Homo sapiens: one gene and its partners. The main gene of each other region encodes a partner of the protein of the gene in region 4 in a complex. Each region holds a gene or a part of one and is shown on either strand. Other genes may lie near its edges.

What was found.
Region 1: FNIP1 (region 4) and LAMTOR5 share a complex: the UniProt entries of both Homo sapiens proteins name them as parts of the lysosomal folliculin complex.
Region 2: FNIP1 (region 4) and FLCN share a complex: the UniProt entries of both Homo sapiens proteins name them as parts of the lysosomal folliculin complex.
Region 3: FNIP1 (region 4) and LAMTOR1 share a complex: the UniProt entries of both Homo sapiens proteins name them as parts of the lysosomal folliculin complex.

What each region holds. Positions count from the first base shown.
Region 1 is NC_000001.11:110,404,144-110,412,629, reverse strand, and holds the start of LAMTOR5 (ragulator complex protein LAMTOR5), read left to right. Parts: upstream 1-5,009; coding exon 5,010-5,044; intron 5,045-6,250; coding exon 6,251-6,312; intron 6,313-8,486. UniProt on the Homo sapiens protein: As part of the Ragulator complex it is involved in amino acid sensing and activation of mTORC1, a signaling complex promoting cell growth in response to growth factors, energy levels, and amino acids.
Region 2 is NC_000017.11:17,233,618-17,241,090, reverse strand, and holds the start of FLCN (folliculin), read left to right. Parts: upstream 1-3,922; 5' UTR 3,923-4,179; intron 4,180-4,407; exon of another isoform or gene 4,408-4,615; intron 4,616-7,473. UniProt on the Homo sapiens protein: Multi-functional protein, involved in both the cellular response to amino acid availability and in the regulation of glycolysis.
Region 3 is NC_000011.10:72,100,298-72,108,528, forward strand, and holds the start of LAMTOR1 (ragulator complex protein LAMTOR1), read right to left. Parts: upstream 3,001-8,231; 5' UTR 2,928-3,000; coding exon 2,886-2,927; intron 1-2,885. Other genes in the region: LRTOMT (transmembrane O-methyltransferase), read left to right, coding at 4,667-4,715, 5,639-5,913, 7,626-7,822; TOMT (transmembrane O-methyltransferase), read left to right, coding at 5,655-5,913, 7,626-7,822; ANAPC15 (anaphase-promoting complex subunit 15), read right to left, coding at 7,054-7,308. UniProt on the Homo sapiens protein: Key component of the Ragulator complex, a multiprotein complex involved in amino acid sensing and activation of mTORC1, a signaling complex promoting cell growth in response to growth factors, energy levels, and amino acids.
Region 4 is NC_000005.10:131,793,467-131,800,971, forward strand, and holds the start of FNIP1 (folliculin-interacting protein 1), read right to left. Parts: upstream 3,552-7,505; 5' UTR 3,456-3,551; coding exon 3,364-3,455; intron 1-3,363. UniProt on the Homo sapiens protein: Binding partner of the GTPase-activating protein FLCN: involved in the cellular response to amino acid availability by regulating the non-canonical mTORC1 signaling cascade controlling the MiT/TFE factors TFEB and TFE3.

The DNA of each region.
Region 1 (8,486 bases), on a different chromosome or scaffold from region 4:
GCCAGTGTGGATAGCCCTGGGGTAGCAGAGCCCTCCGTACCCATAGGAAAGCTACCCTTTCTACCAGAGCTGTGCTTCTTAAACAGACCCTCAGGAGGATTCTACTTCTGATGAGTCAACAAAAGGAGTTAGGGTCCCCTGGGCCAGCAGCAGTGAGATGGCCTACAGGGTCTGTGTTTCCCTCTCTACTTATCCCCCACTTCCCATCAGGACATGTGGGCTTGGGTATTCTCTGCTGGACCCTCCTGGCATTTTAATTTTCCAAGAGCTCATTTATGAAAGAGGGAAGAAAGAAGAGGAGAAGGTGGTTAAAGTTCAGGACCTAAATTTCTTTACCTTAGAGTAAAGGTAACCATAGAGTTCCTTTCCCAAAAGACATCAAGACTCTTCAATAAATATTTGTTGAATTTTTGTCATGCTCTGTTGCACTAGGGATGCAGAGATGAAGACACTCTTCCTGTCAATGAAAAGTAAACGTAAGGGCTGGGTGCTGTAGCTTATGCCTGTAATCCCAGCATTTCGTGAGGCCAAGGAGAGCAAATTGCAGGAGTTCGAGACCAGCCTGGCAACATGGCAAAACCCCATCTCTACAAAAAATACAAAAAATTTAGCTACACATGGTAGTGTACACCTGTAGTCCCAGCTACTCAGGAGGATGAATCACGAGCTCAGGAGGCAGAGGTTGCAGTGAGCCAAGATTGTGCCACTGCACTCCAGCCTGGGTGATAGAGTAAAACCCTGCCTCAAAAAGAAAAGAAAAAAAAAAGAATAAGAATTAAAAAGAGAAAAGAATGAACTTTTTCAAAAGTAAACATAAAAAATTACAATATAATGAAACAAATGCTCTAATACGGATGTCATGGAACTTTTCCTGTCACCCCAGAAATGGTTGCCAGCACTCAAAACTAAGAACAAAGAATTGTTAAATACCCCACAAGCTAAAGAAAGTAGAAAACAAGGGTCAGATACTTTCCCCAACCATCACTCCAGCCCCTAGCACTTGCCCAATTTATATATACTATTCCTCTCCCATTGCCTACTTGCACAGGGGCAAGACAGCAGCAGGGCAGAGAAAGCGGGGGTGGTAAGGAGTAGCCTGCTCTCTCACCTCCCATGTGGCAAGGACATGTGAGCCAGCTATCATCCTCTTCCTACTTGATTTCCCTTCAAAGGCCTTCCTTATAGCTTAAAAAGCAATCGCCAGTCTTTCGGAGAATCCTTTTTTTTTTTTGAGACAGGGTCTCATTCTGTCACCCAGGCTGGAGTGCAGTTGTGCAATCTCAGCTCACTGCAGCCTCAACCTCCCGGGCTCAAGTGATCCTCCCACCTCACACAAAGTACTTGAGACCACAGGTGCGCATCACCATGCCCAGCTAATTTTTGTGCTTTGGTAGAGACAGGGTCTCCCCACGTTGGCTAGGCTGGTCTCAAACTCCTGGGCTCAAGCCATCCGCCCACCTAGGCCTCCCAAAGTGCGGGGATTACAGGCGTAAACCACCATACCAGGCCTGAAAACTACCATGCCTGGCCTGAGAATCCTTTAATCACTGATCTAGCTTTGAGATAATTTGAGATATCCTTGGGCTACACTGGCCAATACTGTGGCCACTAGCCACAGGTGGCTGCTGAGCACTTGAAATGCGGCTGGTCTGAATTGAAATGTGCTGCTAACTGAAAAATATACCCTGGATTTTGAAGACAGTACTGGAGAAAAAATATAAAATATCTCATTAGTATTTTATCAATCACAAGTTGAAATAATATTTTGAATATATTGTTTGAATAAATAAAATGTTATTAAAATTAGTTTCATCTGTTTTACTTTTTTTTGAGACAGTCTCACACTGTAGCACAGCCTGGAGTGCTGTGGCTCAATCTCGGCTCACTGCAACCTCCAGCTCCCGAGTTCAAACGATCCTCCTGCCTCAGCCTCCTGAGTAGCTGGGACTACAGGCACGCACCATCACACCCAGCTAATTTTTGTATTTTTAGTAGAGATGGGGTTTCGCCATGTTGGCCAGGCTGGTCTCAAACTCCTGACCTCAACTGATCCACCCATCTCGGCCTCCCAAAGTGCTAGGATTACAGGCGTGAGCCACTGCACCCTGCCCTGTTTTACTTTTTTTTTTTTTTTTTTTTTTTTTTTGAGACAGAGTCTCGCTCTGTCGCCCAGGCTGGAGTGCAGTGGCGCGATCTCGGCTCACTGCAAGCTCCGCCTCCCAGGCTCACACCATTCTCCTGCCTCAGCCTCCTGAGTAGCTGGGACCACAGGCGCCCACCACCACACCCGGAGAATTTTTTGTATTTTTAGTGGAGACAGGGTTTCACCGTGTTAGCCAGGATGGTCTCAATCTCCTGACCTCGTGATCCACCCGCCTCGGCCTCCCAAAGTGCTGGGATTACAGGCGTGAGCCACCGCGCCCGGCTGTTTTACTTTTTTTAATGTGGCCACTAGACTATATTGCCCAGGCTGGACTTGAACTCCTGGGCTCAAGGGATCCTCCTGCCTCAGCCTCCTGAGTAGCTGGGATTATAGGCACGTGCCATTTCACCAGGCAGTACTTATGTTTTCTAATGCTAAGTTTTAAACTGCTTTTTCTAAAACTTATATGGCCTGTACTGTGTTACCCCTAACTTAACATGAATAATTTCTCTAGAGCAGGAGTCCAAGACCCCTGAATTATAACATTCAAACTGGAATTTTGGCTGGGTGCAATGGCTCATGCCTATAATCCCAGCACTTTGGGAGGCTGAGGTGGGCGGATCGCTTGAGGTCAGGAGTTTGAGACCAGCCTGGCCAACATGGTGAAACCCCATCTCTACTAAAAGCACAAAAATTAGCCACGTGTGGTGGTGCATGCCTGTAATCCCAGCTACTCGGGAGGCTGAGGCAGAAGAATCGCTTGAACCAGGAGGCAGAGGTTGCAGTGAGCTGAGACGGCGCCACTGCACTCCAGCCTGGGCGATAGAGCAAGACTCTGTCTCAAAAAAATAAAGAAATAAACAAACTGGAATTTCAAGGAAGCTGCAAGCTTCACTATGACAGCTGCGGAATAAAAAGGGACTCTGAATGCCAGTGCAGTGTATTGGACTTTGGTTCAATACCAAAGTCTGGTATCTTCCGATCTGGGAGCTGGGCCCCAGATTGGAAGGTAGGCTGTGAGTAAAAAGCTGGAGGTGACAGAGTTGGAAGAAACTTAGTGCAAGGAATGATCCACAGAGGGGGTGAGGCTTACCAATTTGAGTAAATTAGCACCACTTTTTCGGGAGGCAATTTGTAAGTATGTATCAAGAGTCTTAAAAAATGATCATGTCCTTTAACCCAGTCATTCCATTTCTAGTAACTTATAAGGAAATTTTAAAACTGCACAGATATTTAGCTATGAGGATATTCAACCAGCATTGTAATAGCTAAAACAAAAAACAAACAAAAGCAAAAAAAAAAAAAAAAGTCCAAGTACAGTGGCTCACCTGCAATCTCAGCGCTTTGGGAAGCCAACGAGGGAGGGTCACTTGAGACTGGGCTACACACTGAGACTCCATCTCTACAATTTTTTTTTTAATTAGCTAGGTGGGGTGGCGGGTCCCTGTAGTCCCAGCTTCTTGGGAGGCTGAGGTGGGAAGATCGCTTGAACCTAGAAGGCTGAGGCTGGACTAAGCCATGATAGTGCCACTGCACTCCAACCTTAATCCACAATTAAGATACAGCTATAAAATGGAATATTTTGCAACTACTACAAAGGATGTAAGTGAAAACTTGACATGGAAAGACATTTATTCTAAACTCTGTAAAGAAGGCCAGCTACAGAATTGTACCTCCAGTATGTATGTCAATTTTGCTTACAAAACAAACAAAACAAAAAAAACCATGCTAGGCGTGGTGACTCAGCCTGTAATCACATTTTGGGAGGCTGGAGTGGGAGGATCTGTTGAAGCAAGGAGTTTAAGACCAGCCTGGACAACACAGCGAGACCCCCATCTCTACAAAAAAACGTAAAAATTAGCCAGACATGATGGCTCGAGGCTGTGGTCCTAGCCAGTCGAGAGGCTGAGAGGTGAGGATAGCTTGAACCCAGGACGTCCGGGTTGCAATGAGCTATAATCGTTCTACTGCACTACAGCCTGGGTAACAGAGCAAGACCCTGTCCCCCAAAAAATTTATTTTAAAAAGGCAAACGAAAAAACATTAAAAGTATACATTTACAAAGACAACTATCTGAAAGGATATTCTCCAAGAAGTTAAAAGTCGTCTTTGGACAGTGGGGCCATAGATGTTTTCCTATTTTTACCAGCTTTATAATTAATTTTTAAAAGTTATTTTCAAGTAGTCCTACCCAGTCTTCCTTACGAGTTAGGACTCAAATGCCACTCTCTTCCCCTAAACTGTCCTGAGTCCCCTCACCATAATAAGCACCAATGTCTTCGTTAAAATCCCGACACTGCCAACACTCAGCTAGGGGGTTGAACCTTGCTCCATCTCGTCCTTTAGTCTCTGTGTGCGTCTTTCCCCCTACAAGCCTACTGACCCCCTCCAAGAGGTCCCGTGTCTTCCCCGTACTTGCCCCACAGGCTAGATCAGACCCTGTCTGACCCCTGGGTTATTGTAAAACTTAAGATCTGTCCCCTAGGTCTCGGAGTCGGTTGAACTAGGGTCCAAAGGTTAAAAAACACTGACACAAAATGCCAGGCCACGAACTGAAGCACTGAGGCCCGGCTGCAGACCTCTCCCGAGAGGGGAATAATCCGTGCCGGCCGGTTCCGCCATGGAGCCAGGTGCAGGTCACCTCGACGGTCACCGCGCGGGGAGCCCAAGCCTTCGTCAGGCTCTGTGCGACGGAAGCGCAGTGATGTTTTCCAGTAAAGAACGCGGACGTTGCACCGTGATCAATTTTGTCCCTTTGGAGGCGCCGTTACGGTCCACGCCCCGCTCGCGTCAAGTGACTGAGGCCTGTGGTGGAGAAGGACGTGCCGTGCCGCTGGGTTCTGAGCCGGAGTGGTCGGTGGGTGGGATGGAGGCGACCTTGGAGCAGCACTTGGAAGACACGTGAGTAGTGCGCGCCTCTTCGGCCTGTCCTGAGGTCGCGGCGGAGGAACTTGAGCGGAACGAAAGGCGCGAGCTGCGAGTACCGGCCAGGGCGTCTCGGGGACGTCGCGCGACCCCCGGGACACGGGATGAGGGGGCTAAACTCTACCCAAGGCCGCAGGGCGGGGCGGGTGACCCGGAATTAAAATCCTGCCGGGCACCGCACATTCCCTCTTGAGCGAGTCTCCCGGGCCCAGGCCACGGGCCAAAACTGCCTATCTCGTTGTTGAAATCGTCTTTACGGTCAGGGTGGTTCTGCGGAAGTTTTAGAAAACGGGTTGACTTTTGGGAAGATTGTGCCAGTTGTGCAGTGTCGAGCCCTGCAGTGTAAACAAACACGTATCTCCTGTGTGTAACCTATCAGTTACTTGGTGCTTAAGTAGATAAAAATCATTCTTTAAATTTTTCGAACAAGCAGTATCTATGTAAAATTCAAAACTGGAAAAGTGTAAAGGGTACAGAGAGACACCTGCCTCCCACCGATGTCCCTCAGCTTCCACTTACCCTCCAGGAGGTAACTTGAGTTTTTCAACAGTTGTTTTAAATGAGTTAGTACTAAAACATGCGTTTTTAACAAGAGTGAAAACATCCTAGATGTTTTTCACGCAGTGTTTGTGGCCCTCCAGAACTCAGCAGTACTTAGCACATTTTTTTCTCTCATCAGAGAGAAACTGGTTTATTTCAATTAATTAACTAGAACTTAAATTTTTTGTGTTCTTTTTTTGAGACGGAATTTCGCTCGTCTTCCAGGCTGGAGTGCAATGGCGTGATCTCGGCTCACTGCAACCTCCGCCTCCCAGGTTCAAGCGATTCTCTTGCCTCAGCCTCCCGAGTAGCTGGGATTACAGTCATGCGCCACCACGCCTGGCTAATTTTGTATTTTTAGTAGAGACGGGGTTTCTCCATGTTGGTCAGGCTGGTCTTGAACTCCCGACCTCAGGTGATCCGCCCACCTGGGCCTCCCAAAGTGCTGGGATTACAGGCGTGAGCAACCGCGCCCGGCCCTAGAACTTAATTTTTTTCTTAGGGTGTGACAATGAAAAAAGATTGAGAAATATTGATTTAAAGCACTTAATGCCTGGTACATAGAACACCTGTATGTTTGTACTTATTTAAATCCTTTTTCTCCCATTATGTACTTCAACTCTCTTGTGTTCCTGGAATTAGAATGAAGAATCCCTCCATTGTTGGAGTCCTGTGCACAGATTCACAAGGACTTAATCTGGGTTGTAAGTATCTCTCATACCAACTATTTGATGAATTGCATAGCATCTGATGTTGACTTGGAGCCTAGCGTGCTATTATTTTCTAGCTTTTATTTCCTGTTACCTTGCCAGGTCTTTCTGAGTTTGAGAGTAGAGATTATCTCCAAATAACAGTATCAGAAAATTGAAACTTTTCAGTTGGTATTTATGAAGGAAGATGTTCCTTGCAGTCCTATAACAATAAATAGTTGTCTCTACTAAAAATAATATTTGAATCATTTTAAATTGAGTCTAGAAAGGACTTCAGATAATAACAGCTGTTAACCATTTATTGAATGTATGCCATATGCTGAGACTGCTAGGCTCTAAATACATTATCTTTAATTTTCACAACAACCCGGCAAGGTGGGTGGTGTACAATTTTGAAGCTCAACTACACTAAACAAGAAGTGAATAGGCAGTAAAATGGGATTTCAGTGTTGGACATACCTGGTCTCAATCCCTTGCTCTTTCATTTGTTAGTAGTGTGAACGTGGACCAAAAAACTACCTTTTAGGCCCTCATTTTCTTCACTGGGTTGTTATTTGATAATGGTAATAATCATAGAATTATATTTATTGAGCTGTTATGTGCCAAGCACCATTGTAAGTGCTTTACATATACTCTTTTATTCCTCATAACAACCCAGTGAGGTAGAAAAAGAAATTGAGGGACCAGGTGCAGTGTCTCACGCCTGTAATCCCAGCACTTTGGGAGACCAAGGTGGGCAGATCACTTGAGCCCAGGAGTTCAAGACCAGCCTGTGCAACACAGTGAGACCCCCCATCTCTATTTTTACAATAAACATATATATATGTTTTTAAAATTTAAAAAAAGAGGCCGGATGCGGTGGCTCACACCTGTGATCCCAGCACTTTGGGAGGCGGAGGCGGGTGGATCACCTGAGGTCAGGAGTTCGAGACTAGCCTGGCCAACATGGTGAAACCACATCTCTACTAAAAATGCAAAAAAAAATTAGCCAGGCATGGTAGCAGGTGCTAGTAATCCCAGCTACTCGGGAGGCTGAGGCAGGAGAATCGCTTGAACCTGGGAGGCAGAGGTTGCAGTAAGCCGAGATTGCACCATTGCACTCCAGCCTGGATGACAAGAGCGAGACTCTGTCTCAAAAAATAAAAAAAGAAACTGAGACACAGAGGTTAAATAACTTGCCTGAGGTCATGCAGCTAGTAAGTCGTTAAGCTAGGATTTTTGTCTGGCCCTGAGGCCTCTTAATCACTTTTTTTTTTTTTTTTTTGAGACGAAATCTTGCTCTGTCGCCCAGGCTAGAGTGCAGTGGCACGATCTTGGCTCACTGCAACCTCCATTTCCCAGGTTCAGGCAATTCTCCTGCCTCAGCCTCCTGAGTAGCTGGGATTACAGGCGCCTGCCACCACGCCCAGATAATTTTTGTATTTTTAGTAGATACAGGGTTTCACTATGTTGGCCAGGCTGGTCTCGAACTCCTTATCTCAGGTGATCCACCCACCTCCGCCTCCCAAAGTGCGGGATTACAGGAATGAGCCACTACACCCGGCCTAATCACGATATTTTAAGGTTATATAATATGTATAAAATGCTTACATAGAACTGAGACATAATACTTAATAAATGGTAGCAATTACACATGAGGAAATAAGTTTGGAAAGGTAAATAAGTAAAGCATTCAGTTAATTAGTGACAACTAGTAAACCCAAGACTTGTTGCTCCTAATGCAGGAATGTTTAAAGCTCTGAATTTTTGCTGGAAGGGTAACTGAAAGAGGTAATCGGTGTAACTCAGTTATGTTTAACATGCAGATCAGTCATTTGGGAGAAAAAGGGTAAATTTTTGGAAGCATTTGCTAGGCTTACTAATGGAAAGACTGAAATTCAGGTATGGAAATCTAAAACTAAATGAGTTCCTTCAAGAAACCTTCAAGGCTCAAACGTCGGCATCGGATCTGGTCAAAATGTTTTGTATAGTAATAGTACATCCAAATGCTCTGCCATAGTGGCATGTCTATTACCTGATTTGGTTTCAGGTACAGTTAACTTTGTGTTGCCTTTATATACAGAAATATATTGTAAAGTACACTTAGTAATTAATTTTCGTACCTAGAATTTATAGGTACTTTTGTACCCGAGATTTAGTTACTATAATATATACAGACTAATACAGAC
Region 2 (7,473 bases), on a different chromosome or scaffold from region 4:
ATTAGTGGAGAGAGGTTAATTTTTAAAAGCTTACAGAAATTGCTATGGTAAGAAATATTAAATTAATCCTAATGGCCTTTATTGAACCACTAATAACTCATACCTCGCAACTGACTGGATGCCTTATGTGCAGAGTTGATTGTCTAATTACCTAAAACCTGAACTTAGAAACTGTGCATGGGCTAGGCTGGGCGCAGTGGCTCACGCCTGTAATCCCAGCACTTTGGGAGGCCGAGGCAGGCAGATCGAGAGCATCCTGGCTAACACAGTGAAACCCCGTCTCTACTAAAGATACAAAAAATTAGCTGGGCCTGGTGGCAGACGCCTGTAGTCCCAGCTACTCAGGAGACTGAGGCAGGAGAATGGCATGAACCCTGGGGGCAGAGCTTTCAGTGAGCGGACATGGCGCCACTGCACTCCAGCCTGGGCAACAGAGCAAGACTCCGTCTCAAAAAAGAAAAAAAAAAAAAAAAAGAGAAAGAAAGAAATTGTGCATGGGCTGGGTGCAGTGGCTCACGCCTGTTATCCCAGCACTTTGGGAGGGCAGATCACAAGGTCAGCAGTTCGAGACCAGCCTGACCAACATGGTGAAACCCGTCTCTACTAAAAATACAAAAATTAGCTGAGCCTGGTGGCATGCGCCTGTAGTCCCAGTTACTCGGGAGGCTGAGGCAGGAGAAGTGCTTGAACCCGGGAGGGGGAGGTTGCAGTGAGCGAAGATCACGCCACTGTACTCCAACCTAGCGACAGAGTGAGACTCCGTCTCAAAAAAAAAAAAAAAAGAAATTGTGCATTTATCTCACCTTCTGAAATGTTACTCATTGCTTGCTGCCTTTCAGCAGCTGGCCAGACTCCTAAACTGTTCAAAACATCTAAAAACGGAATGTTTTCTCAGTTGCTGGAAGAAACAAAAACTTAGATCATTATTTTTATAACAGGGAATCAATTATAGTAACTTGAAAATATGAGATGTGATTAAAAATATTAAATTGAAATGCTTACAAATGAAATACACCCCTTCTTCCTGAAACTGGAAACTAAGAGTCATTGACATGTGGTTTGACTGAAAGATAAAGCCCAGCTGTATCCTACAGCTACATCAGAGCCCCTGTGGCTAAGGGTACATATAAAAAACTCTAAAACAAATTTCTGAATAAGATGTGACTTTTCCCTGCCACTTGGCTCTATGGTCCTGGCAACTGATGCCTTGGAAGTGATTGATCAGTTTGGATACTCAGCTATAATGAAGCCTCTTGGTTTAGCAGTAGTAAGAAGGCAGAAAAGCATCAAAAAACCTTAATTCTGATTGAGCCTATTTCAGTGGTGGAAAAAAATCTTAATTCTGATTGAGCCTGTTTCAGTGGTGGAAAAAACACATTCTGGATTGTATGCATGCCAGGCAGTAACATATCCAGAGCTTCTGGAATCATTTCATACAATTTCCATTATGGGATAGAAGCTTTGAGATTAGCATTGCATTTCATTTGGTTGTGAATTGTTGAACATTATTGGTATCTGTGCTTTCTGAACATTACTGCTGAGTTTCAATTATCTTTCCCATGAGAATGGGCACATTTTCCGACTTCTAAGATGTCCCTTTTGTTGCATGACCTTGAAAGTTTTTATACCCCATGAGAGCCCAATTTAAATAACCTTTGGTACAATTCACTGAGGCAAAGATTTGGCAGTTGTTAATTTTTTTTTTAAAGATTTATAGGTTTATTTAAGAAAGTACCTCCAAAAGAGGTAGGTGGCTGAAGCCAGTGGTGTTGGGAAAGATGTTAATGGCCTAAATTGAGCCCAGGTGTGGTAAATGCACATTGACTTTTACTGAAAATACACTAGTTGAATAACCTTCCGCCATTAGCCTATCACCATGGAAATAAGGATAATCTGAGCAAGGTGGTGAACTCCACTAACAAACTGAAAAAGGTAATTCCTGGAATTAAAGTTACAAGGTGAAAAAAACCTTGTTCTTGACTTAAAAATCTCATTAACAAACATTAGTTTCAAGAACTTGAACCCGGGAGGTGGAGGTAGCAGTGAGCCGAGATCGCGCCACTGCACTCCAGCCTGGGAGACATAGCAAGACTCCGTCTCTAAAATAAAATAAAATAAAATCACCCTGTAACTTACTACCTCCTCAGAAATTAAGTTTGCGCTGTCCAACAGCAAGAGGAATTCGCTTGATAAGAATAATTAAACACATAAAGGCAATGCCTAACCTCGTAACGCCACCCCATATTCCTTAATCTTTACCAAGCCACTATAAGACGGCAGAAAACACAAGCTGCACTTTCGTTCTTTTCTCGTGTCCCGTTTTCAACAGACCATGGATTTTTTTTTTTTTTTTTAGATGGAGTCTCGCTCTGTGCCAGGCTGGAGTGCAGTGGCACGATCTCAGCTCACTGCAACCTCTGCCTCCCGGGTTTAAGCAATTCTCCTGCCTCAGCCACCAGAGTAGCTGGGACTACAGGCGTGTGCCACCACGCCCAGCTAATTTTTTTTGTATTCTTAGTAGAGAGGGGGTTTCACCTGTTGGCCAGGATGGTCTCCATCTCTTTACCTCGTAATCCGCCCACCTCGGCCTCCCAAAGTGTTGGGATATTATAGGCGTGAGCCACCGCGCCCGACCAGAACATGGAAATTTAAAGAGAAAAAAATAAGTGACTTCTGATTTCAAAAACACAACCACCCACTTTTCTATTCTATTCCTGGTGAGCACATTCTGGAGACTCTGCGGCAACCATAGCCTCGGCCGCGGCGGAAGGCTCCGGGGCGGCCACACCTCAGGGGGCAGCCACACCTCAGGGGGCAGCGCGCACAGGCGGGTCAGGCTCTGATTCCCATCTCTCTCCGGTCTTCACTGGAAGGACCCACACTACATCACAAACTAATGGCTTTACAATTAACTTCTAAGTAGCTAAATTTAGTAATGGGCGCTCTAGTTTTAAAAAATATTATTCAGGCCGGGCGCGGTGGCTCACGCCTGTAATCCCAGCACTTTGGGAGGCCGAGGCTGGTGGATCACCTGAGGTTAGGAGTTCAAGACCAGCCTGGCCAAAAGGGTGAAAACCCGTCTCTGCAAAAATACAAAAAATTAGCCAGGCGTGGTGGCGGACGCCTGTAGTCCCCAGCTACTCGGGAGGCTGAGGCAGGAGAATCGCTTGAACCCGGGAAGCGGAGGTTGCAGTAAGGCGAGGTCGCGCCACTGGACTCCAGCCTGGGCAACAAGAGCGAAAGCGAAACTCTGTCTCAAAAAAAGAATATTATTCAAAAACTGATTTTCACATTTTTAAAAAAGACCCACTGAGGGAGGAAGACCGAATCCCACACATGCGCGCGCACAGCGGTTCCGAGTTCTGCAACCAACCTCCCACGGGCGCCGCGCCTTCTCCGCGTCACGTGACGGCCGTCTCCCGCACCTTCCATACTCTCAATGTAGGGAGAGGACGGGTTCCATCAGCAATTTAATAAAAACCATTGGTGAAGCAAAAAAAAAAAGCCTGCCAACCTCTTATAACGTTTTTTCTTTATTTTTCTCTTTTATGTGGACAGGAAGCCTTAGGTTGGCTATATTTACCCTCAAATCTCTTTTTAAAATGATTTTTAAGTTTCAGCATACTCCCGCGCTTAATGAAATGGTTTCCCCCAGCATCCCCAGCTGGTGCGGTCTGAACCATTCGGAACTTCCCAGAGGGGGGCACCGGAATAGGGGCGGTGGAAAAGGGTAATTGTCGGGCAGCGGCCCCTGCTTCCCAGTCAGACCTCGGAGTTGTAGGACTCGGACTGTGTTCCTGGGCTTGCGAGAGCTAGGGAGGCCCGGCTCTCCTCGCGGTGCAGGACGCGCTCGGACGGCTCCCGCACCCCCACCGCAGTGTTGGGTGGTGGTACGGCTCAGGGAGTCACGCGCCTGGGTGTCGGCGGGGCTGCGGGACCGCGAGTGAGTGTGGTCGCTCCTGGTTCTGCCAGCTCCCCTGAGAGCCTGAACCCGGGCTTGAGAGCCTCGCCACCCCGGGTGACATCCCTGCCGTGGGCTTGGGGGCTCTGGGTGTGATTCCGCCGGTCCGGGTCCCGCAGCGACCACCTACCCAGCGCAGTCAGGGGCGGGGCTGGGACCCAGAGCGGGACCCCGGCTGCCGAGTCCAGGTGTCCCGCGGGCCTCGATTTGGGGAGCAGGTAGGCGGGGGTCTGAGGGGTTGGCGGAGGGGCATGTCCGAGTTTTCGTTGGTCCCAGGTGGACGAGTAATGGGGGAGGGTTTAGGGCCAGAGTCCAGGGCGTCGCCGAGACCCTGAGATTTGAAGATAGGTTGGGGGCACGCCCATTAACCAAGTCTATGGGGATGAGGACTGTGATCTCATTTGATGTTGCCATGAAACGGGACTGTTTGCCTTCCCTTCTCCCAGGTTTTGTCTTCGCTCTGTTTGGAGGAGAGGGTGTGTGTCATCCTCTTCTCCCAGTTTGGCGTTCAGGAGGGTCCTCTGATGCGCTAATAGGGTAGCACCGTGTCCTCCAGGGAGGGTGGAAGACCGCGCTTCTCTCCAGTTGAGAGTACTGTCAGTCGCGTCCTTGTCTCCTGGAAAGAATGGATTGGCTTGTGGATTGAAGTCCAAGGTGTGGTCACTAGCAGTCTCTTCAAGTGGGGACACAGGGCAAGGAGGAGCTTGCTGGAAGTAGGTTCTGGCTCTCTAGCCTTTGGCCACAGCCAGTTTAGTGCCAGATTATCACCGTGGTCATCAAGTAATTGAGTAATAGTGGCAGGTGACACTGCGTTTGCCCTTCTAGTGTCCTATGTCAGGGAGCTCTGTGAATGGAAATCCAGGGAAACGGTGGAAATAGAGCCACAGTGAGAGTGGATCTGAACTGGCAGTCATCCCCTGCAGAACTTTTCACCCTGGGCTTGTTGGGATCCCAGCTGCTAACTTAATGAGGCTCCCCAGTGGGAGACTAGTTATAGAAGCTGTGTGTCCACTGCTGGTTAAGATCCGTTATAGTGCTTTGTTTATTTAGAGTGCCCTTACTTAGTGGCCTCTTTAATTCTCCACGGTGCTATGAGAACACCATAGGAAGTAGGGTTGAAATAGGGCCAGGGCGCACCACGGGTGGTGGTGAGGTCACTGTCCAGGTCTGGGACTCAGCCATTGTGGGAGGGGGACATGAACAGACACTCTACCACATCAGGGAATTTGAATACTGTCTTTGGATATGTTGATGAAGAGACTGTCAGCCAGGGCATTTCGGCTTCCTATGTGGGTTCTGGAAAGCTTGTTGGAAACAGACTCGTGAGACACACTCAAACCAGTTTGTTTTCTTCAGCAAACACCTGGTAGAGATTGGAATTGAACAGTGAGTGAAGAATGACCTCACGCTGCCCAGAATTCTGATTCCATGTGTAATGCGAATTCTGAGAGGCCTCTGTTTCTCAGCTTTTGGGTGGTATTCAGAGAGGTCTAGTAACACTTGGTGTCACCTGGCTGGTGAGGGCAGGCTCCGGTGACCGCAAAGCTAAGTGCTCTGTAGGGCACCTCCCTCTCTTTCAGGGGCTGCCTGGGCCTCTGGTGCACATGATCCATGGAGTCAGAGTCAGAGCTCTCGTCTGACAAGTGCTTTTGCTTTCTTTCTTTCTTTCTTTCTTTTTTGGAGACAGAATCTCATTCTGTCGCCCAGGCTGGAGTGCAGTGATGCGATCTCGGCTCACTGCCACCTCCGCTTCCAGGCTCAAACGATTCTCCTGCCTCAGCCTCCTGAGTAGCTGGCACTACAGGCACGTGCCACCAGGCCTGGCTAATTTTCGTATTTTGTATTTTTTGAAATGGAGTTTTACTCTTATTGCCCAGGCTGGAGTGCAATGGTGCGATCTCAGCTCACTGCAACCTCCGTCTCCCAGGTTCAAGCAATTCTCCTGCCTCAGATTCCCCAGTAGCTGGGATTACAGGCATGCACCACCACCATGCCTGGCTTTTTTTTTTTTTTTTTTTTTGAAATGGAGTCTTGCTCTGTGGCCCAGGCTGGAGTGCAGTGGTGCGATCAGCTCACTGCAAGCTGTGCCTCCTGGGTTCACGCCATTCTCCTCCCTCGGCCTCCCCAGTAGCTGGGGCTACAGGCCCCCGCCACCATGCCCAGCTAATTTTTTGTATTTTTTAGTAGAGACGGGGTTTCACTGTGTTAGCCAGGATGGTCTCAATCTCCTGACCTCGTGATCTGCCCACCTCGGCCTCCCAAAGTGCTGGGATTACAGGCGTGAGCCACCGCACCCAGCCTAATTTTTGTATTTTTAGTAGAGATGGGGTTTCAATATGTTGGCCAGGCTGGTCTCGAACTCCTGACCTCGTGGTCCGCCTGCCTCGGCCTCCCAAAGTGCTGGGATTACAAGCATGAGCCACCACACCCGGCAATTTTTCTATTTTTAGTAGAGACAGGGTTTCACCATGTTAGCCTGGCTGGTCACAAACTCCTGACCTTAGGTGATCTGCCCTCCTTGGCCTCCCAAAGTGCTGGGATTACAGGCTTAAGCCACTGCACCCAGCGAGTGCTTTTCATTAAAAGGAAAAACGAATAAGAGTAGCCCATGTTTTGGCCAGACATGGTGGCTTATGCCTGTAATCCCAGCACTTTGGGAGGCCGAGGAGGCGGGAGAATCACCTGAGGTCAGGAGTTCAAGACCAGCCTGGCTAACATGGCGAAACCCCATCTCTACTAAAAATACAAAAGTTGGCTGGTCCTGGTGGCGCACGGCCATAATTCCAGCTACTCGGGAAGCTGAGGCAGGAGAATTGCTTGAACCTGGGAGGCGGAGGTGGCAGTGATCCGAGATTGCTGCACTGCACTCCAGCCTGGGCAACAGAATGAGACCCTTCCGCAAAAAAAAAAACAAACCAAAAAAAAACAAAACAGTGTAGCCCATGTTGGCTCTGGGTGCTGGGAAGTGGCTTGTCAGCGTTGCCTCTGGTTTCCCTCTCCTGCTTGAGAAGGAAACTGCCAGGCCTATGGCCTGAAAAGTAAGTTGGTGTGATGTAGATGCTGCCAGAGCACCCCCTTATAACCAAGAGTAAGAAAGATGGGGACTTGGCTGGATGCAGTGGCTCATGCCTGTAATCCTAGCACTTAGGGAGGCTGAGGTAGGTGGATCACCTGAGGTCGGGAGTTCGAGACCAGCCTGGCCAACATGGTGAAACTCTGTCTCTACTAAAATACAAAAATTAGCCAGGTGTGGTGGCAGACACCTGTAATCCCAGCTACTCAGGAGGCTGAGGCAGGAGAATCACTTAAACCTGGGAGGCAGAGGTTGCAGTGAGCTGAGATCACGCCATTGCACTCCAGCCTGGGTGACAAGAGTGAAACTTGGTCTCAAAAAAAAAAAAAAAAAAAAAAAAGGAAAGATGGGAACTTGCAGCCTTGACCTCCCAGGCTGAAGTGACCTCCCAACTTAGTCCCCCAAGTAACTTGGACTAGAGGCATGCCCGGCTAATTTT
Region 3 (8,231 bases), on a different chromosome or scaffold from region 4:
AACCACCTGAGTAGCCCATGTAAATTTTCAGCAGCCCTGTTCCTGCTGGCCTGTGCTGATAATCACAACCCCTGAACTAATGTAAGACCAAACCAAGCTTCCTCATTGGTTTGGTCTTCCTCCTTGTCCTCTTTCAGTCCCCTGTTCTATCTACTGTAATATTTCTGGATTTGACCCTGCCTTGAGACCATCAGCTGCAAATCCTTGCTTGCTGTATCAGCAGTAAATGAGAAAAACAGACCTGCTGGGTATCTATCCAACCCATAAAGAGCAAGAGTGCCCTGAACAAAGCCAAGGATGGGCCCAGGGGGACATCCTGGCTAATGCTGACTCACCAACCTTCAGTGCCAGACTCCTCAATGCTCCCCTCCAGGCCTATCTCAGTTCCTCAGTCTTTCCTGCTGCAGGCCGCAGCTCCCCTGCCCACAACTCCACAACTCTCCTTGTAGAGGGCTACTTCCTCCTGCCCTGCTTAGGGAGGCCCAGCCTTTTCACCTTACTCTTCTTTCTCAAGGCTAGGTTGCCCAAGTGTCCTCAGGCAATTTGATCCAGTTCCCAACAGCAAGAGACAGAAGCTGTGGGCTTTGCCCCATCACCTCTATAAACTCCCAGACACCCTTCCTCCCTAAATACATAGGCTCAGTATTAAAGAGCTAAAAAGACAAAATGTTTGCCAAAGATAAAACTATGTATTTCTAAGGAAAGCTGGCTCCATAATGAGGCCCAAGTTAGCTTCCTATGTGTCTGTCCTCCCAGCTCCACTTCAGACAGATCTTCCTGCAGGACAGGGTAGTCTCTTCCCTATCAGGGGTTCTTCAAGAAGAAGGTTGGCTGATCACTTCTCAGCCTTCAGCTAAGATCAAGTGAACAACAAGGTTATTTTCTTGAAACCCAGACTTAAAGAAGAGGCCATGCTACCTACTTCAGAGCAGACAAACATCACCCCACTCCCAAAGTGCGAGTGGAGCATGGGTTAGGTTTGTCACATCAAGGTTTGTCTCTGCATTAGTGTAACCCAAGAGGCAGGGTTTCACTGTCTACCTTAGCACAGACATAGCAGCCTGCCCGTGACTGGCCACCTGGTCTAGGGGCATGGCTGAGACAGCTTGGCCCCATGGATAAAGTACATGGCCTAGCGTCAGAACACCTGGGCACTAGCACTTCTCAGCTTGGCCAAATCACTTAGCTTCTCTGAACTTCTTCCTCACCTTTCAATAGACATAACCCACACTAATATGACGGATGTCTGGCAAGAGTCAAATTAGATAACTGTGAAGGCCCTTTGTAAACTGTAACGTGTTGTATATTTTTTATTATGATAAAGAGACAGAGATGAGAGTCGGAGAGGGGCCTGCCCAAGAACTCAAAGAGGGACTGTGGGATGGTGGATGGTTATGGCCCTTGCTACATGAGGCCTCAAATCACCCAGCAGTGATTAAGCACCTTCTCTGGGTGTTAGGAACAGAAATGAGAGCCCCCCAAGGAGAAGGTAGAGATTCAGGAGAGCAGCAGGCCCAGCTCTCCCTTCCAAGTAGAAGCTTGTATCCTTTCTCATACGGCATTAATCCTTCTTGACTCATTCCCTGCAAGAGTCCATATTATGCTTTAAGGGACAATTTCCCACTAGGCTACAGCTCTCCCAGTAGGCAGGGTTATTGTTGTCTCTTTCTCAAAAAGGTGGAAGTGAAGTGAGAGGTATTAGGCACAACACATGCCTAACACAGGGCAAAGGAAATATGTGTTCATTGGGTGTATGGAGAATTGAGAACCAGAAGCCACCCTTGCTTCCCATACAAACGACATTTTCCTAGGCTTAAGCCCTTAATCCAAAATACGTTCACTGAAGAACGAACTACTTCCCAAGTACCAGTGATATAATCTATTTTTGTGACCATCTTCCCCATTAGACCGTGAGCTACCTGAAACCTTTCTACTCTCTCAGGTCTACTATATGTTCAAATGTAGAATCCGGGCTTAGAGACGATCAAAAAAGGAGAGTAGACAGCAACTTGAGACTTCATCCTTGAATGTCAGGCCAGGCAGGGCAGGGATTAGAGTGTGGGGAGAAGTGAGAATGCACTAAGAGGAAGAGGGAGAATTTAAAACTGTACAGGTCTCCCCAGCCTAACCCTTTCTCCAAAGGTATCAGATCTACAGCCAAATTCTCAGAATAGGCATGTCTCCAGCTAAAGGAACCCTCAGGCCCCAGGCAGACTGCACTGAGGCAAGCCAAACTCAGAACCAAATGAACTTCCCGCTCCATTTCTCTTTTCCCACAATCTAGCCAAAGCTAAATCCTCTTTGTTGCTTCCCAGACAATTTCCCACATGTCCCGATGTCCTCACTGTATCGATTAAATCCTTCATTGGCCAATTCAAAGGCCACCAACTTCCAGAGTCGTCCCCTGGCCCTAGACTAGCAGCGACCTTCCTTCTGCAACCCCAGGGACTAAGACGATACACGAATTCCTGATTCATCTCAGGACAGACTAACTCAGGGCCTCAGCTTACCCACCCCTAAAATGGATTCGCAAAGCCCACTAATACACAGAAGACACAGGAAGCTGGGGAAGGGAGTGTTTCCCGGGGACCTAGACTGAGGATCCTTGAATCTGAAAAGTTTTGAAGGTAGGAGCAAACGGAAGTGGTGGGAGCGAGCCGGACAGGCGGCTGCCTGCACACCCCGAGGCGGGGACTGTGTAGAAATCTGGGGCTTTAACAGGGGTAGGAGCCCGGCTTGGCGTCTCCTCTGTAATCTGTCCCCTCCAGGCCTCCGTATTCAGTGAGCCCTGCAGTCCGGCTGCCCGTCCTCCGCAGGTTTCTTTCTGGGCCCCATGCCCCAGTGTCTTAGCCCTCATTCCCGAGCCCCGCCTGCCGCGGCCGCACCTGGTCCGAGTCCTCGTTCTCGCTGCTGTAGCAGCACCCCATGGCCGGGGTCGGGCCGGGCGCTCAGGCCGCGCCGAGGAGGGACGGCGTCCGTGAGGAGCCCTTCCGGTCACATGACCCGCGGCGGCCTCCCGCAGGCAACCACCCGCCCCCACCCCCCGTACCCCCTGTCCCGGAGCCGCTTGGCCGCCTCAGTCAATACCCCGGCTTCCGGTCCCGCCCGCTAGCGCGTGATCGTTGTCAACCAATGGGAAGGCGTAACCGTACACGCAAGCACGTGATGCGGGGAAAGGGCGGGGCGGATCACATGACTTCATCTTTCCAGTCTCTAAACTGGCAGTAGTGGCCATCGTGAATTGTGTTATGCGTTCTCGTGGCCACTAGGCCACTTTTCTGGGCCATTGAGCGAACTCGTACCAAATGCCCTCGTATGCCCTTGTGATATACTCTTCTAAATGCCATGCGAGGGGCGACTGGGATCCAGGCCTGATGCTCCAGATCGTACGGTCTGGGTGCACACACACAGATGATCCAGATGACCAGTACCTAGTCGGGGAACACAGAGGGTGTATCGCCCAGCTGGGCTGGGGGTGAATACACAGAGGGTGTATTCTCCACCTGGGCTGGGGATCTGCGACTTACAGGAAGAAGGGACCTTATACTACCTTCACATGCTGACGCGCAGCGGAGATAAATCCTGGTAGAGGAGATAGAAGCCACCTCACTGACCTCTCTGCTTTCAGGCTTTTATCTTTAATTCTGCCTTTTTTAACAGCACCCATTGTAATCGAACGCACAAAGCTGACCATCAGTTCTCTTTTCCTAACCCCCGCTCCATGTCTTCCCTTGGGCCCTGAACACAGGTCCAAGTCCGTCCAAGATTGTATAGTGATCCATTTGTTGTTCATGAGCGTGTGATTGGGTGTTCACCAGCATGTATCAAATGTGCCACCCTCAAATCTTGTTTTGGCACATTACCCGTCTGACATAACAAGAGCCTGACACCTCTCCCACTGCATGTTCTGGGGTGAGGGGTGGAGGGGTCAGCAATGTGTTTCACTGGACATAGAGAAATAATGTAGTTTCCTGATTGATCTACTGGACTTTGTACATGCAGCCTGGTCTGCCTACTGTCTTTACTGTCTTCGAGACTCAGTACAATGTCCTCCTGATTACCTTCTCTGACTCCATTCTCTGGACATGCCCAGCTCCCTATGCTTAATCCTCATCCAGTGTTAATTCATGCATTTATTGAATCAACAAATATTTGCTGAGCGTCTACTATGTGCCACACATTGTTATATCTGGATATGCAGCAGTTCACAAAACAGCCAAAGTCCCTGTAGTCATGGAACATCCAATAGTGATCACACTATATTGTATTCTCTGTTCCTGGGTCAGTCTCACCTACCAAACTTGGGAGTTCCTGGAGCACAGTGACAGGTTCTGACTCTTCCCTGTAGCCCAAGGCATGGCCTTGCTTACAGAAAACTTGCATATCAATGAGCATGTTACAGTCACCCCATCACCTTGGCTCACCCCATGCCCCATCTTCTGATCCAAAGTATTGGAGAAGTCACCAGATCTCATACCTCTTATAACCCCTCAAATCAAGACCCTGAGGTTCTGTAAATCTTTTGAGGTTCCTGAAGGGTAGGAGGCAGCTCAAGCTCGTCCCTGGGGCTGGTAACTTGAACTGCAGGTCTCAGGTGACAGCAGCAGCCTCAGCATGAATAATTGAAAGCCATTCCAGCCTCCTACCTCAGGGTTATCCCCCGCAGCAGGCCCTGGACTCCCCGACCTGTCCTGTGCTCTGGTCCTCCAGCCCAGGTAAGCAGGGCCCTGGATTGTGGGTTCCCAAGCTCACCAGTTCAAGCCCACCGCATCACTCACCTATTCACACCCATCCATACACTCTTTCATTTTTACTCCCCGCCATCACCAGGGGCCTTGCAAGAAGGCCGGCAAGGAGGTCAGATCTGGATGAGGAGGAGAATGGTCCAGGACATGGGAGGAGAGGCCCATTCCCCATAGGTCCCTGGAGAGAAGAGCTGAGTAGAGGGAAAATGTGTGCTGTGTGTTATGTGTATGTACACATTTGTGAAGGGAATTCTGAGACAGCACAGGAGAAGAGGGGAATACAGCGGAGAGGAGATGGGGCTGGAGAATTATTAAAGAATCAAAGACTCCTCCCATCCTCAGGGAAGAGCAGGCAGAGGGAGAGTCCTGGGGTGGGAAAGAGGACATCTCACTCTAACACCCTATGGGGTATTTTGATTGCATTTTACTGAGGCAGGGCACAGTGATAGTGAAGGTGTTTTTGACTGCAAATCTATGCTCTTTTGCTACACAGCAGTGGTCAGAGGAGACCAGGCAGGCAGAGGGTAGGGGTGGGGGAAGATATCCCAGAGGTGAATTAGTGAAAGGGGTCCTGAAGAAGGGGTGACTTCAAGGATAAAGAGAAACAAGTCAGGGGAACAATGTGAAGATGGGACCAGGGGTTGGGACCGGGAAGAGGTGGTTTGGGGCTGGGTGCTGAAAGTAGACAGTATAGAGTCCTTGAAAGTACACAGGCTTGGAATCACACTAACCTGGATTCAAATCCCAGTTCTGCTCTGTGACTCTGGACAAAAGACTTAGCCTTTCTGAGCCGTGGTTTGTGAAATATAAGGATAATAATTGCTACTGGCAAAAGCTACACAAATAGGCAAATTGTGGGTATGGGATTCCCTCCCTACCTCCCTCCACCCCAGGGCCCAGGTAGGGACCATGTCCCCTGCCATTGCATTGGCCTTCCTGCCACTGGTGGTAACATTGCTGGTGCGGTACCGGCACTACTTCCGATTGCTGGTGCGCACGGTCTTGCTGCGAAGCCTCCGAGACTGCCTGTCAGGGCTGCGGATCGAGGAGCGGGCCTTCAGCTACGTGCTCACCCATGCCCTGCCCGGTGACCCTGGTCACATCCTCACCACCCTGGACCACTGGAGCAGCCGCTGCGAGTACTTGAGCCACATGGGGCCTGTCAAAGGTCAGTGTTCCCTAGCCTTCTGCTCCAAGAAGTACCCCCAAGACAGTGAAGGAATATTTGGGATCTGTTGCTGCTTAACTGGATGAATTGGGCAGGTTCTTGATCCTCTTTTAGGGCCTCTTTTTTTTCTCATCTGGAAATGAGGAGCTTGGACTAAGTCATTTATTCAGCAAACATTTATTGCCACCTCTTTTGTATTAGGAATGTGCTAGGTGCCAGGGAGAGGGGTAGAGGCCACAGAGATGAATGAGCCACAAATGCTGGCCTCAAAGGAACCATAATACACAGTGGAATAACCATCTCAGCAGATAACCCATAGCTTTGTAATTATCTGTCTCCACATCTTTCCTCTCCACCATGGAGGCTTCCACATACCATTTAGGGTAGCTGTCTGCCTGGATTTATCTCAATCCCAGCATAAGTGCTTTTAGGGTCTTATTTAAGAAATTCGGCTGTGTGGTGGCTGGTGCCTGTAATCCCAGCACTTTGAGAGGCCGAGGTGGGCAGATTGCTTGAGCTCAGGAGTTTGAGACCGGCTTGGGCAACATGGCAAAAACCCATCTCTACAAAAAATACAAAAATTACCCAGGCATGGTGGCACATGCCTGTGGTCCCAGCTACTTGGGAGGCTGAGGTGGGAGGATTGCTTGAGCCCAGGAGGCTGAGGCTGCAGTGAGCTGTGATTGTGCCACTGCACTCCAGCATGGGTGACAGAGCAAGAACCTGTCTCAAAAAAAAAAAAAAAAAGAAAAAGAAAAGAAAAGAAATTCACTGGCTGGGCATGGTGGCTCATGCCTGTAATCCCAGCACTTTGGGAGGCCAAAGCAGGAGGATCACTTGAGCCCAGGAGTTCGAGACTAGCCTGGGTAACAAAGCAAGACCCCCGTTTCTACAAAAAATTTAAAAATTAGCCGGGTGTGGTGGTGAGTAACTGTGGTTCCAGCTACTGGAAATGCTGAGGTGGGAGGATTGCCTGAGCCTGGGTGGTCAAGGCTGCAGTGAGCCGTGATCATGCTACTGCACTCCAGCCTGGGCAACACAGCAAGACTTGGTCTCAAAAATAAATAAATAAAAGTTCATCCAATTCCAAGATCAGAAATACATTTGATGAGCAATAAAAGGGGAATGAAACTACAAATTCTAACAGAGACCTTTCATAAATCTGAAAGATAGGGTGGTTGTTTCTGCCTGGGACTTCATGGAGAAAGAGCAACATTTGAACTGAATCTGGAAGTTCTGAGTTGGCCAGGCAGATGGCGATGGGGGTGGGAAGGGCAAAGCCAGCCACATATACACATGTGGCATGAAGGAATGAGACAGCTTGATGGATTCTGGGCACAGTTGTTTGGGATGGCTGTGATACAGGCCACAGGTGGGAAGTACTGAGAGATGAACCTGGAAAGGTAGGATAGGATCAGGTCCAAGGTCCTGAATGCCAGGCTGAGAATCCCAAGTTCAATCCCAAAGGCCTTCAGCTCACAGGAGCCAAGGAGTAATAAGGTCAGATTTGTTGGAAAGATTCCAGGGCTGGTGTGAAGACTACACTGTAGGAGACGGGGACCAGGAGGGCAGCTGGGGCTATGGTACAAGAGACAGATGAGACCCCGGCTGGTTGGGAGCTGCAGTGAGGCAGGTAGGCATTTGAGATATCTTTTATCAGGGGCCCTGCATCCATCTCCCATGTCTTCTGCAACAGCCATCTCCCCTCATAGGTCAGATCCTGATGCGGCTGGTGGAGGAGAAGGCCCCTGCTTGTGTGCTGGAATTGGGAACCTACTGTGGATACTCTACCCTGCTTATTGCCCGAGCCCTGCCCCCTGGGGGTCGCCTTCTTACTGTGGAGCGGGACCCACGCACGGCAGCAGTGGCTGAAAAACTCATCCGCCTGGCCGGCTTTGATGAGCACATGGTCAGCCTCCCATCTCCCCAACCCAGATTTTTGTCACCCCAGGCCTTGCCCCCAGACATCCCTTGTGAAGGACTCCCATCTAAGGAGAAGGAAGCACCTCCACTCTGGGGACTGTGATGCTGGATGGTGTGTGAGCTCCTGCCCTCCTGTCCCAAGTCATCTGCACATTATTTTCTGCCGGATGACGAAAGAAACAGCTAAGAGGAAGGTCTCTGGAACCCAGCAAATTTGGGTCCAGCTCTTACTCTGCCTCTTGTTAGCTACGTGACCTTGAGCAAAGCATGCATCCTCTGAACCTTAGCTTCTTCAGAATGGAAATCACAATACTGATCCTGACTTCTTAGGTTCTGAGGTCAGAGGAAATGTGAGAACACTCATGGGAAGCTAAGCCAGGACCTGGCATGAAGTA
Region 4 (7,505 bases):
GAAAACAAATTACTGTCTCAATTCTATAAATGACTGAAAAAATACACTCCCCATAATATTTTTCAAACTCATCTCCAGCTCAAGAATCTTAGATAAGCACATAGAAATCGATATGGTAAGAGACCTTAGAGTGAAGACAAGGGAAGGGGGTATTTCCTGGCCATCTCTTCCAATGGGGTAACCATAAAAGACAATACAGAAAGGTTCCTAAAGCTTCTTTATCGGAAGTCTCTCCTATTCTAAAGTCCTGCTGTGGCTTACAATTACTGAGCTTTGTATATTGGTTACTCTAGGAACTGCCTCTTAGGGACTGAGCTACAGTTAGTTGCCAATGGCTAACTACACCCAAGCCTGATTTAACAATTTAGGCTGACTAGAACAAAACAAAACACCCAAAAAAGGATTCCAGCAATGAAAGCATGGTATACTAGAATGAAAACAAAATGTTAGTCTACTCAAAAACCTGGGTTATATAAAAAGATGCTGAATATGATCTTCGGGAAATGCAAATTAAAACCACAAGATACCACTAGAATGGCTATAATCAAAAGAATAAAAAAACGATTAAGACAGTAAATTTTGGCCAGGCATGGTGGCTCATGCCTGTAATTACAGCACTTTGGGAGGCCAAGGTGGGAGGATACTTAGGAGCCTACTCAGGAGGCTGAGGTGAGAGGATTACTAGAGCCCAGGAGGTCAAGGCTGCAATGAGCCTTGATTGTATCATGGCACTCTAGCCTGAGCAACAAGTGAGACTCCATCTAAAAAAAAAAAAAAAAAAAAAAAAAGTAAATTTCATATTTTTTTTACAATAAAAATTTTTAATTAAAAAAGAACAAAAATAACAATATCAATATTGAAGAGATTGTGAAGAACCTGTAACCTTCATGCATTGCTACTGAGAATACAAAATGGTACAACTATTTTGGAAAAGTCTGACAATTTTTTTTTAAAGTTAAACACAACATTTAGCACATGACTCTGCAACCCCACTCCTAGATTTCTATCCAAGAGAAAAGAAAATATATGTCCACATAAAGATTTATACACAAACATTAACAGCAGCATTATTCATAATAGCCCAAATCTGGGGAAAAAATATGTCCTCCAACTAGTGGCTGAATAAACAAATCATGGTATAGCCATACAATGGAATACCATTCAGTGATAAAATTGAAGGAACTGGCTGGGTGTGGTGGCTCATCCCTGTAAGCCCAGAACTTTGGGAGGCCAAGGTGAGAGGATCCCTTGAGCCCAGGAGGTTGACAGTGTATTAAGCGTGGTCACGCCACTGTACTACAGCCTGTTGACAGAGTGAGAAAAAAAGGAACTAATAAATGCAACAAACAAGACAGACACAAGACTATGACAGAAAGTATCAGTGACTGCCACGGGTGAGGAGGAGTTAGGCTACAACAGAGCATGAGGGAACTTTTTGGGTGATGGAAGTGTTCTAAAACTTCATGGGGGTGGTGGGTACACAACTGTATACGATGTATGCTTAAAATGTATTTATACTTTATTGTGTATAAATTATAGCTCAATGAAATAGTTTTTAAAAAACCCTGGGTTGATTAGATCTGTAAGTTATTAGCTATGTGACATTAACCAGAATGGTTTTTTTTCCTTCAGATATGCCTATTCTGTTTCATCAGTTTTCATTTCTCACATGCACAAGTTTTATTTTTAAAGTGAGAGATTCCATAATGTACTGCAGTTATTGGGCTTACAGATAATTCTTACTTCCACTGGCAAAAGTATATAGTTATCTGCACTGCTACTTGCTCTATCTCGTAAGATTGCTGTGAAACATCAAATAAGATAACTGATGAGAAAGTTCTTTGGTAACTGTAAAATAGTATTACGCAACTATGTAGTAGACTTTACATTTTTGAAAACCAGACGTGAAAATGTTTTTTCATATGAGTGACTTGAGAGCCTTGTAAACCTACGTACCCAAAGTCAATCTTTGTCCAGAAATAGAAAGCAGTTGTCTATTCAAATGCCACCTTTTAAATATCCTATCGGAACCTGTTTCCTATTGTCGCTTGAGTTACTAGATGGCTCAATGTAGTATTATCTAACCTGCACTTTCATTTTTCAAAGGAAAAACACTAAAGAAATGTTTAAAGAGAGACAGATGAGCATGACACATTTATTTTTCAGGGGAAAAGACAGATACGTAGAAAAACCTCTTCAATTCCATATGCATTTACTGAATTTTTCCTGATGAGACCTGCATTAGCAAGAGAGAGTGAATAATTTTAAGAATAGCAAAATTTCTTAAACCAGTGTGGCAACTTCGCCTGTTCCAAAATTTGACAGATTCTCTTTTTTTATTTTTATTTTATTTTTTTGTTTCTACTATTGTTGTACAACTGGGCTCTTTGCTATCCTACCAAGTTTAAAACGTGTGGCATTTGACATTTAGCCTAGTTATATTTGCAAGTTTCCACACTGCAATACGTATAAAGGCTGTTTGGACATAATCTCCTCAGGTGCAGTTTAACGACTAAATTTTACCTTGAATTCAGGTTTATATCAAATCTTACAATTCTGAAAAGTTACTCTGCCAGCAACAGGTACTACAATGAAAAATTAACAAAGCCTGTAACACTACAAAATGCTCTACTAACATTTTCAATTTTTAAGACTCCTTTTCAGTAACAATTCGAGGAGGAAGAATCTACAGCCAATTCCAAGGCCAGATTTCATTCAATTTGGTCTTCCTTCGGCAGTAACCCTAAACTCAAGTTTCACATTTCTCCTTCGATAACATTAAGGTCGCTCGGTCCGGTTACTGCACACCTCCAATTTTAGCGTCCAAGAAACCTGAAAGAACGGCACGTTGCCTACTCGCTCCTCCAGCCTTCTCTCAACTCAGAAGCTTGGCCAAACGTGCCGCTCTCTCCACAACGCCAACGGAGCTGGAACGCAGCGCCCGGAGGACAACTGGTCACGGGGAGGAGGGGAGAACTTCGCGGCCCGGAGTACGGCGGCTGAGGTCCAATCCAGCCCGCGCCCAACTCTACTCGGTGCCAGGAAGGCGTGTGGACCCAAAGTCTCAGGCCGCGGTGCTAGGTCCGGAGGAGCAGAGTCGCGCGTGGCTGGGGGCAGGTCGTAAACAAACCGACGGGAGGAGGGGGAAGGGGCAACGGCGAGGCGGGTGGGGTAAAATAAAAGGTAGGACCTCGCTCCAACCCTTCGGCGCTAGCCCGCAGCCGGCTCCACCCCACCGAGGACCAGATGCTGCTCTCGGCGCGGCGCTTCCGCTCGGGTCGGAACACCGAAGGCCCCAACACCCCTGGAGCCCGGAGCCCACAAGGCCATCGGCTCCGCGACCCCCGCCCCACAGCGCCCTACCTGAACCCGCAATCTGGGTCCCGGGCGTCGCGGCCGGGCGCGCCCAGCCCGGTCCTCTTGCTGAAGAGCTTCTGGAACAGCGTAGGGGCCATGCTAGCCACGGCCAGGCAGGGGTCGCTCCGCTGGGCGCTTGCTAGGCCCCTGCTCCTACAGCCGCCCCGCCACCCCCATGGGCGCCTCAGTCATATGACAGAAATTAGTCACTTCAAACGGCCACGGCGCGCGGGGCGGGGCGCGAGGCAAGGCCGGCACTCATTGGCTGGAGGGGGGCCGCATCACGTGGCGGCGCGCGGAGCAAGGGGCAAGGTGGGGGCGTGGGGCGGAGCTGCCTCCCATAGGCTCACTGGCGGGTCCCGTCACGTGGCAGGGGCGGGGCGTGAGCCGAGAGGACAGGACTGGAAGGTGGCTAGGGATGTGTAGCGGGAGAAGGGTCAGTCTCGATCTTCCCCTGTGAAGCTGTCAGCGACCATCAGAGGGTACGCCGGGGTGGCGCGGGGACGATGCCAGGAGCCTTGGAGTGCAGAAGGCTTCGACTCCCCGCACCCACAGAGTTGCGTAGGGAACCACGGGCAACCGACTCTTCCTTGTCAGCCCCTCCCTAGCTTCTGCGGCTTCACACCTCCATTCCGCGCCGGGCAGAGTCTGGCGGCTCCTGGAGCACGGAAGGCCCACAAGCGTACCCGTGGGGCCGCGGCCAAGGCTGGACTTTGAGCCCAGGACCCCAGGACCGCCCTTAGAAGGCTGCGCCGGCCCGCGAGAGGTCTGGGATCTGGACAGCGCGGGGGCTGGCTCACAGGGACTGGTGAAGGAAACTGCCGGGACCCCTGCCACAGCCATGGCTCCCCGCAAAGACGACCTCGAGCAGGCACTGCGGGCAGTTTGTACTAGCGCCTAGAACCCTGACACCGGGAATTAGTCTCTTGGAAGAGCTAGCGATTGGAGGCTCAGGAGTTAGGCTGTTTCCTTGTTAACCAACAAAATCAGGTGAAACCAACGAAGTCAGGAAGCCTAAAGACATATATGTACAGATATCTAACCCTTTACGCTAATTATTTAGATTTTTAATAAATCTATCTTAATGTTTAGGTATGAAGACGGGAGGAACTGTGGAATTTTAGTCAAGTTACAGGGAAGAAACGCTTTCTAAAAAAAGAAAAACATTGCTCACATGTGACCTCACAGTCTTATTTAACCCATGGAACCAAAATATATCAGAGTTTGTATCAAACTAATCTTATAAATTTTCAGCAACCCCATCCATTCACTCACTCCCCCTCCAGGATGAGGAAGCTCGTACAATGGGATGTAATCCTCAGAGAAATTTAGGAAATAACTTGTATATGGTTGGAAGGCTGGATAAAAATACTTTGGGCAGGCGTGGTAGCTCACGTCTGTAATCGCAACACTGCAAGGCCGAGGCAGGCAGATCGCTTTAGCTCTGTAGTTCGAAACCAGCTTGGGCAACAGTAAGACCCTGTCTCTACAAAAAAAAAAAAAAAAAAAAAATTTTAATTAGCCAGGTGTGGCCGGGCGCTGTGGCTCACGCCTGTTATCCCAGCACTTTGGGAGGCCGAGGCGAGTGGATCACCTGAGGTCACGAGTTCAAGACCAGCCTGACCAGCATGGTGAAACCCCGTCTCCAAAAAATTAGCCGGCGTGGTGGCGGCGAATGCCTGTAATCCCAACTACCTGGGAGGCTGGGACAGGAGAATTGCTTGAACCCAGGAGGCAGAGGTTGCAGTGAGCCGAGATTGTGCCATTGCACTCCAGCCCGGGCAACAAGAGCGAGACACCGTCTCAAAAACAAACAAAAATTAGCCAGGTGTGGTCACGGCGCACACCTGTGGTCCCACTCGGGTGGCTGAGGTGGGAGGGTAGCTTGAGTGTGGGAAGTCAACGCTGCAGTGAGTGCCACTTGTACTTCAGCCTGGGCAACAGAGGGGGGCCCTATCTCAAAAAACAAATACTTTTTGAGAATTTCATTTAATTAGGTATACAAATTAAATTTTATTTTCTTTAAGTGGCTACCAACTCCCACTGATTTGCAGCTAGAGTTTATGCTCTAAATAAGGGTCTGAAGATATTTAGAAAAGAAAAAGTAATAGGCAGAATTTATATCTCTTTGAGAATTTGTCAACAACCAAAATACTGAGTTTCAATGTTCCAAGACTTTTTTAAAGCACTATTTATTGATGATTAAGATAGTAACATATTCTTTCCACAATCATTTATGTTCTAGGCAGTGGGGATCCAAAGTAAAAAAGAGCTAACTTTCTAGGTGAGGAGACAGTAAATAAGTATTTAAAGTTATTGCACTATTTATTGATGATTAAGATATTAACATATTCTTTCCACAATCATTTACGTTCTAGGCAGTGGGGATCCAAAGTACAAAAGAGCTAACTTTCTAGGTGAGGAGACAGTAAATAAGTATATAAAGTTATTTCAGATAGTAACTAATGTTGTGGAGTTAGTAAGAAATAAGCAATGAAATGAGGGTGTCAGCAAAGTCTGAGGAGGTAACATTTGAGGTGCTTAGGTTGAAAATCATTCAGTTGCTCTGTGTATTACCCAAGGTCCAGAAACTACTGGGCAATACAGGATCAAAACAGCAGTACTATTTCACCTAGACATTTCAGATAATCCTCTGGCATCAAATGCTGAAAGATTTCTAACAGGGTAAAATGAGCTGTGTATATTTTTCTCACAAAACATTTGAATGTAGAATGAAAAATGAAGTTTTTGTAAACAAAAAAATAAAGTCAATGCAATTTTTAAAAAGTAAACAGAAGTGTAGATCCTATCAGTCAATTAATGGGGCAATCATTTGGGAAGTTTTGTTTTTACACTAGTTAAGTTACACTAAATGAGTACAAGTGGAAACAGGCCAAAGTCTGTCTATACGGGACCAAAGACACTAAGGACTAATGGCTGTCCATGACTGGCACAGAAAAGAGTAGTTCCAGGTCCCCTCAGAAGGAACTTTCCAAATACAATAACCTTGTGTGCTTTCGTCTTGGGAAAAAATTACTTCATGGGTAATTATAGATATTAATAGTAAGGGAAAAGAATATAACTGCTTGCATAAGAGACACTTTCAGTATTCTCTAATCATGTAATAGCTTTATTTCTGTAGTCTCATTTAGTCTTGAAAGGTACAGAGAAAAACTAGATTTACTTCCTATTATTGATCACATTTCTCCTACATTGCAGTGTAATACTAAAGTCACAGAATCAGAGAGCGCTGAAATGATACAAGTTTGTAATAAAAGAGGACAAAACTATACATAATTATTCAGATTAAAATTTAAATATTTCAATTTTAGTATCAGTGAATATTATCTTTTATTTTTCCTTTTACTTAGTACTACATCCTATCACAGAGAAGCTGAGGTGTCTTACAGGCAGCCTTTGTAAGTTTAAGGAGTCAGCAAAGAGGAAATGTGAGAAAGAAAATAATTACCTACTCATTCATGCTACGTTATATCAATGTGGAACTACTGGGTTACAAAGATTAGACATAAGGCCTACTACACTCTCACTCAAGGGTGGAAGATTTAGTCTCCTCAAAACTCCAACAGTCTATAGATTTCTGTCCACCTGCTTCAAAGATTCCCCTCCTGATAGCATAAAAGACAGGCACTCTTTGCTATAGGCATTTCCTGGTTACTACATATAGGAAAAGGTGGCAATAAAACTAAAATCTTCCTCAACCATCATGCTAATAAGTATAGTCTCAATTATGCTGAATTATCATGAAACAAATTATAATTTCATTGATGACATCTCAGAACAAGACATTCAAAATCAAGATGATCAAGTAGACCTGCCCGAAAAACATTAAATGGGCTCAAGTTACCCCACTTTTAAAAACTCCTAAACCAACTGACCATTTATTGCTATATAATAAGGAAATGGCAGTATTCTGAAGCACCAGAAAACATAAACAGTGATTTATTCAACAAACATTTCTTGAGTCCCTCCAACATCTCAGACTCTACTGTAGGCACTGGGAATATGGTACTGAACAAGAGAGTCCTTATTCTTAGAAACTTAGTTTTTTGTGGGAAGAGACAAAATAAACAAGATGTTTGCAAGGTGTGCTAGGAGCCAGGAAAGAAAGCATGGATAGCAAGCAACTG